Linked DNA regions of Homo sapiens. The protein of the gene in region 1 interacts with the protein of each later gene in a pairwise test. Each region holds a gene or a part of one and is shown on either strand. Other genes may lie near its edges.

What was found. The genes of interacting proteins can lie anywhere in the genome.
Region 2: the proteins of TRAPPC6A (region 1) and RAD54B interact in a two-hybrid assay, tested with the Homo sapiens proteins (one large-scale study listed by BioGRID and IntAct).
Region 3: the proteins of TRAPPC6A (region 1) and TRAPPC10 interact in a two-hybrid assay, tested with the Homo sapiens proteins (one study listed by BioGRID).

What each region holds. Positions count from the first base shown.
Region 1 is NC_000019.10:45,168,238-45,171,737, forward strand, and holds part of TRAPPC6A (trafficking protein particle complex subunit 6A), read right to left. Parts: intron 1-3,500. UniProt on the Homo sapiens protein: May play a role in vesicular transport during the biogenesis of melanosomes.
Region 2 is NC_000008.11:94,402,116-94,405,615, reverse strand, and holds part of RAD54B (DNA repair and recombination protein RAD54B), read left to right. Parts: intron 1-1,376; coding exon 1,377-1,539; intron 1,540-3,500. UniProt on the Homo sapiens protein: Involved in DNA repair and mitotic recombination. May play an active role in recombination processes in concert with other members of the RAD52 epistasis group.
Region 3 is NC_000021.9:44,015,309-44,018,808, forward strand, and holds part of TRAPPC10 (trafficking protein particle complex subunit 10), read left to right. Parts: intron 1-3,500. UniProt on the Homo sapiens protein: Specific subunit of the TRAPP (transport protein particle) II complex, a highly conserved vesicle tethering complex that functions in late Golgi trafficking as a membrane tether.

The DNA of each region.
Region 1 (3,500 bases):
CGTGATTCACCCACCTCGGCCTCCCAAAGTGCTGGGATTATAGGCGTGAGCCACCGCGCCCGGCCCTGACCCTGTCTTAAAAAATAAATAAAAAACAAAAAACCAGTAAGACATTTACTCGCTTCCTCCAGCTCAGGGTCCTGGGTGGCCAGAGCCCGTCCTGGCAGGGCCAAAAGCAGGAATGGACCCTGGACAGAACGCCATCCCATCACAGGGCGCACACGGGCCCACACTCACTCACACTGGGCCCACGGAGACCCGGGAGCTCACCCAGCGGACACATCCCAAGGATGCACAAGGAAAGGAGAGCCCAGAGGAACTTGCACCAGCACAGGGAGAACCCACAACCACCACCCAGACAATGGTCCCGGGAATCATTATTTTTTCCTCATCAATGTCACAACAAAATGTTATTCCAGGACCGGCATACTGTGTGGCAGGCGTTTTCTACAGCCTTCTTGTTTTACCTTTCCAGCCTCACAGAAGGCTGTAATTCCAGGTGGAAACAGGGGCTCTGAGGTTAAGAAGAACCCATCCAAGGCACCCTCAGCACGGGACTGTCTTTCACACCCCAGCAGGTCCAGATAGGAGGGTGGGTGGGGTGACAGCCATGGCTGTTGAGGGCCTCACGGAGGTGAGGAGCGCTGGGAATGGCGGGGGGGCCTGAGCTGAGGTCGCCCATATCTGAAGCCAAGGTGGCCCTTCCTCTGCCTGGCCCCTTGCCAGGCCTCGCCCTCATGGGTGACAACGACACGGCTTCCTGTTGCACTGTCTCCCTCTGGTGTCACCATCTGCTTTCCTCCAGTGTCCTCAGGCACAGCAGGGCCGGCCACACAGCAGAGGCTCATGGAAGGGGCCGATGACTGCAGGAGACGGGCAGGTGTGTGTGAGAGACAGAGTGGGAAGAGACCCCTGCCCGTGGGTCCTTCATGGCAGCACTACCAGCGGCGCAGGTGCAGAGCCACCGCCTGGGTCCAGATCCGCCCCAGCACTTACCAGTGTGGGACCTGGGCCAATGGCTGAATACCTGTGCCTCAGTTTCCTCATGTAAAAAAGAGGGTCATTTTGTTTGTTTTTGAGATAGGGTCTCATTCTGTCACCCAGGCTGGAGTGCAATGGCACGATCTTGGCTCACTGCAGCCTCTACCTCCTGGGTTCAGGTGATCCTCCTACCTCTGCCTCCCAAGTAGCTGGGACTACAGGTGTGAGCCACTGCGTCCAGCCCAAAGGAGGGGAATATTAATGGCAGCTACCTCCAGGATCCTCACAAGGAGTAAGGGTTGGTAAAGGCAACCTGAGTACTTCAAGGCAGTTCCGGGAGCCTTACTTATTGCATTCACAGCCTCCACATCTGTCAAACAAGGAGACGGCCCCAGCCAATGAGGGATGAAGCCCTTGGCTGGAGGAGAACCCCAGGAAGGAAGGGGGTCTGTTCTGTGGGCTCCTGTAGCCAGCACCTAGAACAGCCCGGGCGAGAGCTCGCTGCCTGGTAGCTGCGGCTCCCGTGTCACCTCCTCCCACAGCGAAGCTCCTGGAGGCAGGGCCCAGGCTGCACTCTGAGGGAACACGTCTGTGTCCACAGCAAAGCTCCCAGAGGCAGGGCCAGGCTGCACTCTGGTGGAACACGTCTGTGTCCCCACTCGCTAAGGGCTCCTTTATGTCCCTCCCTCATTCATGCCACAGACATTTCCTAGTGTCCTCCAGGAGCTCACCTACCTTGCCTGGCAGGGTTGACAGGTGCCCAAATGATGCCAACTGACAATCTGGGAAGGGCTGGGAGACTGAGTGCAAGGGGCCCGGGCAGTGCAGTGCAGAGCCTGCCCTCCAGGAGGGGGCCGGAGGTGGCAGGTATTCCAAGCAAAGGGCATGTGCCAAGGCAGGGGTGAGAGGCGGGGAAGGGAAGGGGCCCTCAGAGTGGGCTGCAGAGGGGGCATTTTCCCCTGCAGGCAAGTGCAGCCAACCTGAGGGTCAACGCAGGCCACGTTGCCTGAATGCCAGCCACAGTGGGCCACAGACTCAGTCCCTGCCCTGCTGGAGCTGGCGTTTCACCCGGGGAATGGGCAAAGGTGCAATGGCCGGCTTCACTATGCTCACAGCGACTGCCAAGAGGGAGGCAGGTGTGCTGCGAGGGTGCACTCCCACCCCTAGGAAGCACCCCGACTGTGCTGAGCCTGAGGGAAGAGGGGGAGTTCAACAGCAGGAGTGGGCTGTGAAGGCACACCAGGCCCAGGTCACAGCCAGGACGGCAGCCCCCGGAGGGGTGAGCTGGGGGAGAGAGTCAGCAGGGTCCTTCAGCCAGGCCAGGAGCGTGGAGTCTGAAGGGGTTCCAGCAAGTTCAGCTTTTCCCTTCATGAACTTCACACTGCCTGGGTTTGAATCTCGGCCCCGCCACTCACTGGCTCTGTGACCTTGGGCAGATTAGCCAACCATCCCGTGCCTCAGTTTCCCCACATGTGCCATGGGGCTAATGGCAGTACCTGCTCACAGTGGTGGTGTGACTGGCAGGTGGCAACAGCTGGATACACGGCTGTGTGACTGCTGGCCCCACTGTACCCAGCCCTGGACAGGGGCCATTCAGATCCTGGCTGAACTGAAAAGGGCTGTGGGGAATCACAGCAAAAGGGAGGGGCCGAGGAGGAGCAGGAGGCAGGGAAGAAAGGGCGGAGGAGGAAGGGAGAAGCCTCCACCCACCTCATCACAGCGAGACCTGGTGGTGTCCATGCCCATGTCACTGCAAAAGCTCTTCAGAGGTTAGGGGTTTATCTTTCTTAAAAACAGAAGGGGCTGGGCGCGGGGGCTCTTGCCTGTAATCCCAGCACTTTGGGAAGCCAAGGCGGGAGGATCACTTGAGGTTAGGAGTTTGAGACCAGCCTGGCCAACATGGCAAAACCCTGTCTCTACTGAAAATACAAAAATTAGCCGGGCGTGGTGGCGCACGCCTATAATCCCAGCTATTCAGGAGGCTGAGCCACCAGGATCGCTTGAACCCGGGAGGCAGAGGTTTCAGTGAGCTGAGATCACACCAACACATTCCAGCCTGGGTGACAGAGCGAGACTCAGTCACAAAACAAAACAAAACAAAACAAAACAAAACAAAACAGAAGGGCTGGCCAGACAGAGACTCTCCCATTCATATGAATCTGCCAGAGCCCAGCCCAGAGCCGGTGCATTTCTGGGGCTCCCCACGCCTGCCTCTGCTGAGTTTACACACAGACCGGATGAAAGGAAAGGTGGAAGGGAAGTCTTATCAGTGTCGGTGCTAATGACATCCACCACACAGGAAGGATCAATCAGACACAAAGCAGAGTTCCTGGAAATGAACAAATATGGTGGCCAAAATCAACACTTTTTAACAAGGGAACTGAATAACAGAGAAACCTGTAAGACAGATAACACCTCCCAGAAGAAAAACAGGAGGGAGGAAAAAATGAGAGAAAAGCTACAGGATGCTTGGAAGAGATGCAGGAAGTCTAATATTCCCTGTGGTGCCTACAGGACAT
Region 2 (3,500 bases), on another chromosome or scaffold:
GAAAGCCAAGGACTACATTTCCCATTTTTACTTCCTAGTCTCCTACCTAACAGGAATTGACCTCAAAGATGAAAGTTCATTTCAGTTACTCAGAAACCTAGGAAGATCCAGAGAAAACTTACCCTCTGGGTATTTGTTAATGGTAAACATGACTAAACTCTTATTCCTGTGACAGTATAGTTCCACACTGATGAATATTTACATAGTCTACTGGAGTCTATTTCTTTTTATCTCCTCTTCTCATCTCCTCATTCTTTTTTCTTTTTTTATCTAATTCAATTTTTATAAACATGATGTAGGCATGCAAATATATCCCCAAAATAATTTTGGTGGGTTTATTATCTAATTTCAGATTTATCAATTGAGACCTGCCTTCTAGTTATATTTGATTTTGCCTTTTTGGGTGATATTTTAGTAAATCTTTTAAATTGTGTTAGCATAGTTTTGAAGAATTACATTGTTATTCTATGATGACTTCATGCTGCTTTAAAGAGGTTCATGAGGCTGGGTGCAGTGGCTCATGCCTTTAATCCCAGCACTTTGGGAGGCTGAGGTGGGCAGATCACTTGAGGTCAGGAGTTCGTGACCAGCCTGGCTAACATGGTGAAACCTTGCCTCTGTTAAAAATACAAAAATTAGCCGGGTGTGGTGGCGCGAACCTGTAATCCCAGGTACTTGGGAGGCTGAGGCACGAGAATTGCTTGAACCTGGGAGGCGGAGGTTGCAGTGAGCTGAGATCACACCACTGCACTCCACCCTGGGCAACAGAGTGATACTCTGTCCCCAGAAAAAAAAGCTTTATGAACTTGACATTCATGAATGTAGTAATTAACTTCAAGCAAATAATGGTGGCTAAGTCAATGGAGAATTTATCATTTTTTCTCAGTTCTAATTAATAGGAGTAATGATCATTGTTAGTGTGTTTAGGACTGAAAAGATAGAAAGCCTGTATGTTAAATTTGGGGAGACTTTTCAGAATGAGAAGCTGTGAACATTGGCAAATGCATCTTGGCAAAATTCCAACCTGTACTTTCAGTTGGAAATAGTTCTCTTTGCTCTGAATACTGAACTATTCAATGTTGTGGCTTATTGAATTCCTTACTAGACAATAGTGAATTTCATTGCTTTCGAAGCACTTTTGGGTATATGAAGTTTGGAAGGCTCTTCGTAATTCTTTGCATGAAATCGTTCATCAGTAAGGCATGAGATTTTCTTTTTAAATTTTGTGCCCTTGGGTAACATTACTGTGACTAAATTTTGGACTTTTTTGGCCACAAATGATGGCAAACATTTCTATCTTAGGGTAATGAAAACAAGATAATGTTGGTTGCTGAAAAAGTGAAATTACAATACTTGTACTTTTATCATTTTTTAAGATTCCCTCGTTATGCCACGACCAGATAAGAATCACCAGTGGGTATTCAATAAGAACTGTTTCCCTCTTGTGGATGTAGTGATTGATCCTTACCTTGTATATCATCTTCGACCACATCAGAAAGAAGGAATCATATTCCTTTATGAATGTGTAATGGGAATGAGGTAGGAAAATAAATCATTTGTTTAATCTAATCTGAATTTTGATTTAACCTGTAACACAATAATGGTTTTCTAAGAAGATCCTAATATAATGAGTCCTGAGGGTACACTATGAATTTCAATTGGTAGGAAAGGTGAATAGTGCTTACTGTGTGCATTTATTCCAAAAGTGGTTCTTGATAGATGCCACGTGCCAAACATACTGCTAGGAGGTGGGCATATGGGAATCAGGACCACGGTCCTTACTTTTAAGTGGCTTTTAAAGTATTTGAGTAAACAGATAAATGCAATTGACCTTAATGTGGTATAATAAAAGCTTACCGACTGCTAGTGTGGTAAAGGGTCATAAGAGCAAGTGAAAGAGGCTTTTAATTCTGGTTATAAGAATTTTTTTTTTTTTTTGGAGACGGAGTCTTACTATGTTGCCCAGACTGGAGTGCAATGGCGTTATCTTGGCTCACTGCAATCTCCATCTCCCAAGTTCAAGTGATTCTTGCATCTCAGCCTCCTGAGTAGCTAGGATTACAGGCGTGCTCCACCATGCCTGGCTAATTTTTGTATTTTTAGTAGAGACGGGGTTTCACCATGTTGGCCAGGCTGGTCTTGAACTCTTGACCTCAAGAGATCCACCCACCTCAGCCTCCCAAAGTGCTAGGATTACAGGCATGAGCCACTGCACCTGGTTATGAGAATTTTGGAAAAAGATTTTCTTCTGTCTCTACATCTGAAAATAGAAAAAAGTTTCTTCTTCCTTTTTGCATTTTCTGATTAAAGAATAGTAGTATCTTAAAGATATTTTAGAGGACACAAAAAAACAGGAGAAAAAAAGAATCAAAGGCCCCTGCTAACATTTCTTCCAGTCTTTTTTGTTTATTTGTTTTGGTTTTGTTTTGCCTTGTTTTTAAATGCCAAGACCCTTGATTTTAAAATTTGTCCTTTAAAGGTAGTTGGAAATGAAATTCTCCCCAACTCTAAGAACTCCTTGAATGATGACAAGTTAAGGGAATACTGTCTTCCAGAAACTGTTAACTAGACTCATATTTCCTCCCAAATCTGCTTTTTCTTTCGAAGGTCTTATCTCAGTTGGTCTGTGAATCATCTTTGATTTCTTCTCTCTCACATTCTGAATCTAGTCAAACCTGAACTTTTAATTATTTTAACCTCCTAAATATTGTTTCCTAATCTTTTCTGTCATTCCACTGCAGCATCTCTAGTAACCGATGTCATAAAAATATCATATTTTATCTAGACTATTGCAATGGCTTCTAACCTGTATATTTGCTTCTGATGCTTCTCAAATAATGTATTCTACTTAAAGCCACCATCTTGAGTTTTCTGAAAAACAGTTCTGAACATGGCATTCCCTTATTTAAAATCATTCAGAGACTCTCAGAACTTAGAACAGTGTTTCCCAAACTGTGATCCCTACTCCACTGGCAGTATATGGGACCATTTTGAGGTGGCAAGTGGACAAGCCTTTAAAAAAATTTGAATAGTAGCATATTTAGTTAATTATTGGAAAAATAGGCTGGGCATGGTGGCTTACACCTGTAATCCCAGCATTTTCGGAGGCCAAGGCAGGCGGATCACTTGAGGTCAGGAGTTCAAGACTAGCCTGGCTAACATGGTGAAATCCCGTCTCTACTAAAAATACAAAAATTAGCTGGGTGTGGTGGCAGGCACCTATAATCCTAGCTACTCAGGAGGCTGAGGCAGGAGAATCACTTGAATCCAGGAGGCGGAGGTTGCAGTGAGCCAAGATAGCGCCACTGCACTCCAGCCTGGATGACAGAGCAAGACTCCGTCTGGAGAGGAAAAAAAAAAAAAAGAAAAATAGCACATTAAACTTTTGGTTTCACAGATAAATTATGCTTAGAAAGAGTTTTCTTTTCAAATTTAAGTTAAAATGATTTGAAGAAAAATCATAAATAACATATAGTATCACAGATATGACAACAAATCGT
Region 3 (3,500 bases), on another chromosome or scaffold:
TTAAAAACTGTGTATATGTAGGGATAGAAGAATGAAAAGTTCCCAAAGATTAAGGGTAATTAGAATAGATTATTACTTTAAAACCTAGCTGATTATTTCACTTCATTTTATTATTATTATTTTTTTAGAGATGGGGTCTCGCTCTGTCACCTAGGCTAGAGTGCAGTGGCATGGTCATAGCCGACTGCAGCCTTGCTGGGCTCAAGTGACCCCTCCCTTAGCCTGCCAAGTAGCCAGCACTACAGGTATGACCCACCTCACCTGGCCTGAATTATTTTAATAATATTTTGAAGCTCTCCAAATTTTTTTTTTTTTTTTCTGTCTGAGACAGAGTCTTGTTCTCTTGCCCAGGCTGGAGTGCAGTGGCGCGATCTCGGCTCACTGCAACTTCTGCCTCCCGGGTTCAGTCGATTCTCCTGCCTCAGCCTCCCAAGTAGCTGGGATTACAGGCGTACACCACCATGCCCACCTAATTTTTGTATTTTAATAGAGACACAGTTTCACCTTGTTGGCCAGGCAGGTCTAGAACTCCTGACCTCAGGTGACCTGCCCGCCTCGGCCTCCCAAAGTGCTGGGATTACAGGCGTGAGCCCCCGCACCTGGCCCTAAATGTTTTAATAGACTTTAGCCCATAATTAAACCTCCTGCCTAACGGGCTCCTGTGAAGAGGGACTAGCACAGTAGGGGCCTTCTTAAACTCAGAACTAGTTACAGCTTGTAAATACTGAAGAGTGTATGTGAAATGTGCAGGGATGGGAGCTGAACAGTTAGTGGAACTAATGCTTTGACGGGGTTGGGTGATGAATGACCGAATCATAGCAATAGGAAAACTTGTAGTATATTTTATTAATCATGAAAAATGCCTGGCGTAACTGAAACAAATCCAGCAGATCCATTTGGTCTAAATTTAAATTTTAGCGTAGATTTGTTTTTCAGCCACAGGGTCAGTTTTCTGTTTTGAAATAGACTTGGGTTTCTGTTCCAAGGGTGTATTAGGAAAGACACGTTCCTTTTCCAGCCATCTCATTCAGTTAGTGACAAAGTTAATGTAATTCCAGTGATTTGTGGCTTTTCTTTGTTGACTGTCCTCATACCTACAATAGCACATACCTGTTATTAGCTTGGAATTGAATTTCTCTGAACAATAATAGTACCCTCCCTCTAGGTGATCTGTTCTCATTAGTCACATCTGTTGCCTGTTTCATTTTTCTGAGTTTCTGTATTTGGGGTTCCAGGTCTGATATTAGAAACTTTTAAAGGGGAAAACAGGCAACAGAAATGAGCAGATATGTAGAGCTTCGTGTCTGGTTGGACTTTGGGATTTTCCCCTGTAGGTTAAAATTTTTTTAATTTTAATTTTTATTTTTTGAGACGGAGTCTTGCTTTGTTGCCCAGGCTGGAGTGCAGTGGTGTGATCTTGGCTAACTGCAAGCTCCGCCTCCCGGGTTCACGCCATTCTCCTGCCTCAGCCTTCCGAGTAGCTGGGACTACAGGCGCCCGCCACCACGCCTGGCTAATTTTTTGTATTTTTAGTAGAGACGGGGTTTCACCGTGTCAGCCAGGATGGTCTTGATCTGACCTTGTGATCTGCCCGCCTCAGCCTCCCAAAGTGCTGGGATTATAGGCATGAGCCACCGCGCCCAGCCAGGTTAAAGTTTTTAAATTTGCACATTGAAATTTTCTACTAAACCTGAAAATGTGGTGCTTGCGATTTAACCATCACTAGTTTTACTACCAGAAAAGTCACTTGAAATGTCTGTTTAAATGGGTGAATATGTTATAAATGCAGATTTTGTTTCATATTGAATTCTCAAGGCAATGTTGAACCAAAGATTGAAAAGTAGGAGAAACATTCTTCTTAGGAAATCGCAGTTGTTGCAGAGAGTATGTATTTGGAGGCGGGGACTAAAGGCACCAACAAATGTGCTTAACTTACTATGTCATTTCTACCCGAGCATGGTTACAAACCATTCCATCTTGTACGCATGACCTCGGTTCTTACATAATTTCACAGACCCTTAGCTGTGAAACGGGTACAGTACCAACCCCATCGGGTTGAGAAGGGTGTGTAAAGCACTCAGGAGAGTGTCAGGATTATAGTCAGTGTGCAAAAAAAGTTACTAAGGAGAGGTTCCTCAATTTTCTCTGTTCACAATGCTTTTAGTGTCTCGGTAATTTTTTTCATGGCATCTCTAGGCTAAAAGGAATACTTAAAAATTCCATTTATTAAGTAGTTAGATTCCAGTAATTTATTAAATATTATGTCCTAACAAGAGCTGTTTGAAAAAAAATATATATAAGTTGGAAGAAAAAAATATTTTCATCATTCTTCCTAATTGCAGCAGTGTGCTACGTGGGGGGCAGGCCCTGCGGGAGCTCTGTGGCACCTCTCACCTGAAGGTCGGATTGGACGCTGCTTCTCCCTTTGGTTTTTTTTTTTTCTTCTTCTTTTTGGTGGTACTTGCTTTTTATCAGAGCAGCCACCCTGTTTTGCGACGATAATGATGTCATCGAAAGAAGTGGAGCCCTGATCTGATGTTGACACTGTGAATACCTTGTGTGGGGTTCCTACACCACAAGCATTGCTGTTTCCCTCATAAATTTAAAATATCTCTTGGTGCCTCTCTGCGTAGTGTGTGGGAAGCCTAGGTACACAGTTTGGGAACCCGTGCTGTTAGTGTTATTAGCCCAACTCCAGGGTGGATTTGAACTGATACTTTAGAATTGAAAAGCTTCCTTTCTTTTCAGCTCACACACCTACTTTACTACAAGATGTGTTTCTGAAGAGTTTCTAGTAAGTTCTTTATGCAAATGAAATGGAAAGGTCTGATTTTCTTTTTTTTTTTCTTTTTTTCTTAAGTGCTGATGAATCTCTGAAATAATCAAGTATGATACAGCTTGGGCAACATAGGGAATTCCTATCTCTACAAAAATGAAAATAAAAAAGTTAGCCAGGTGTGGTGGTGTGCGCTTGTACTCCCAGCTACTTGGGAGGCCGAGGCGGGAGGATCACTTGGACCTGGGACGTCAAGGCTGCAGTGATCTGTGATTGTACCTCACACTGCAACCTGGGTGACAGAGCAAGACCTGGTCTCAGAAAAAAAAATAAAGGCTGGGCGCAGTGACTCATGGCCATAATCCCAGCACTTTGGGAGGCCAAGGTGGGTGGATCATGAGGTCAAGAGATTGAGACCACCCTGGCCAACATGGTGAAACCCCGTCTCTACTAAAAATACAAAAATTAGCTGGGCGTGGTGGCTCGCGTCTGTAGTCCCAGCTACTCGGGAGGTTGAGGCAGGAGAATTGCTTGAATCTGGGAGGCGGAGGTTGCAGTGAGCCGAGATCATGCCACTGCACTCCAGCCTGGCGTGAGACTCCGTCTCAAAAAAAAAAAAAAAAAAGTATGTCGGGCATAACACATGAACCAGTCTTTCCTTAGAGAGTTTTTGCTGTGTGCTTCCACCAGAGGCCTGCCAACTGACAGTGTGATTGTGTGGCTC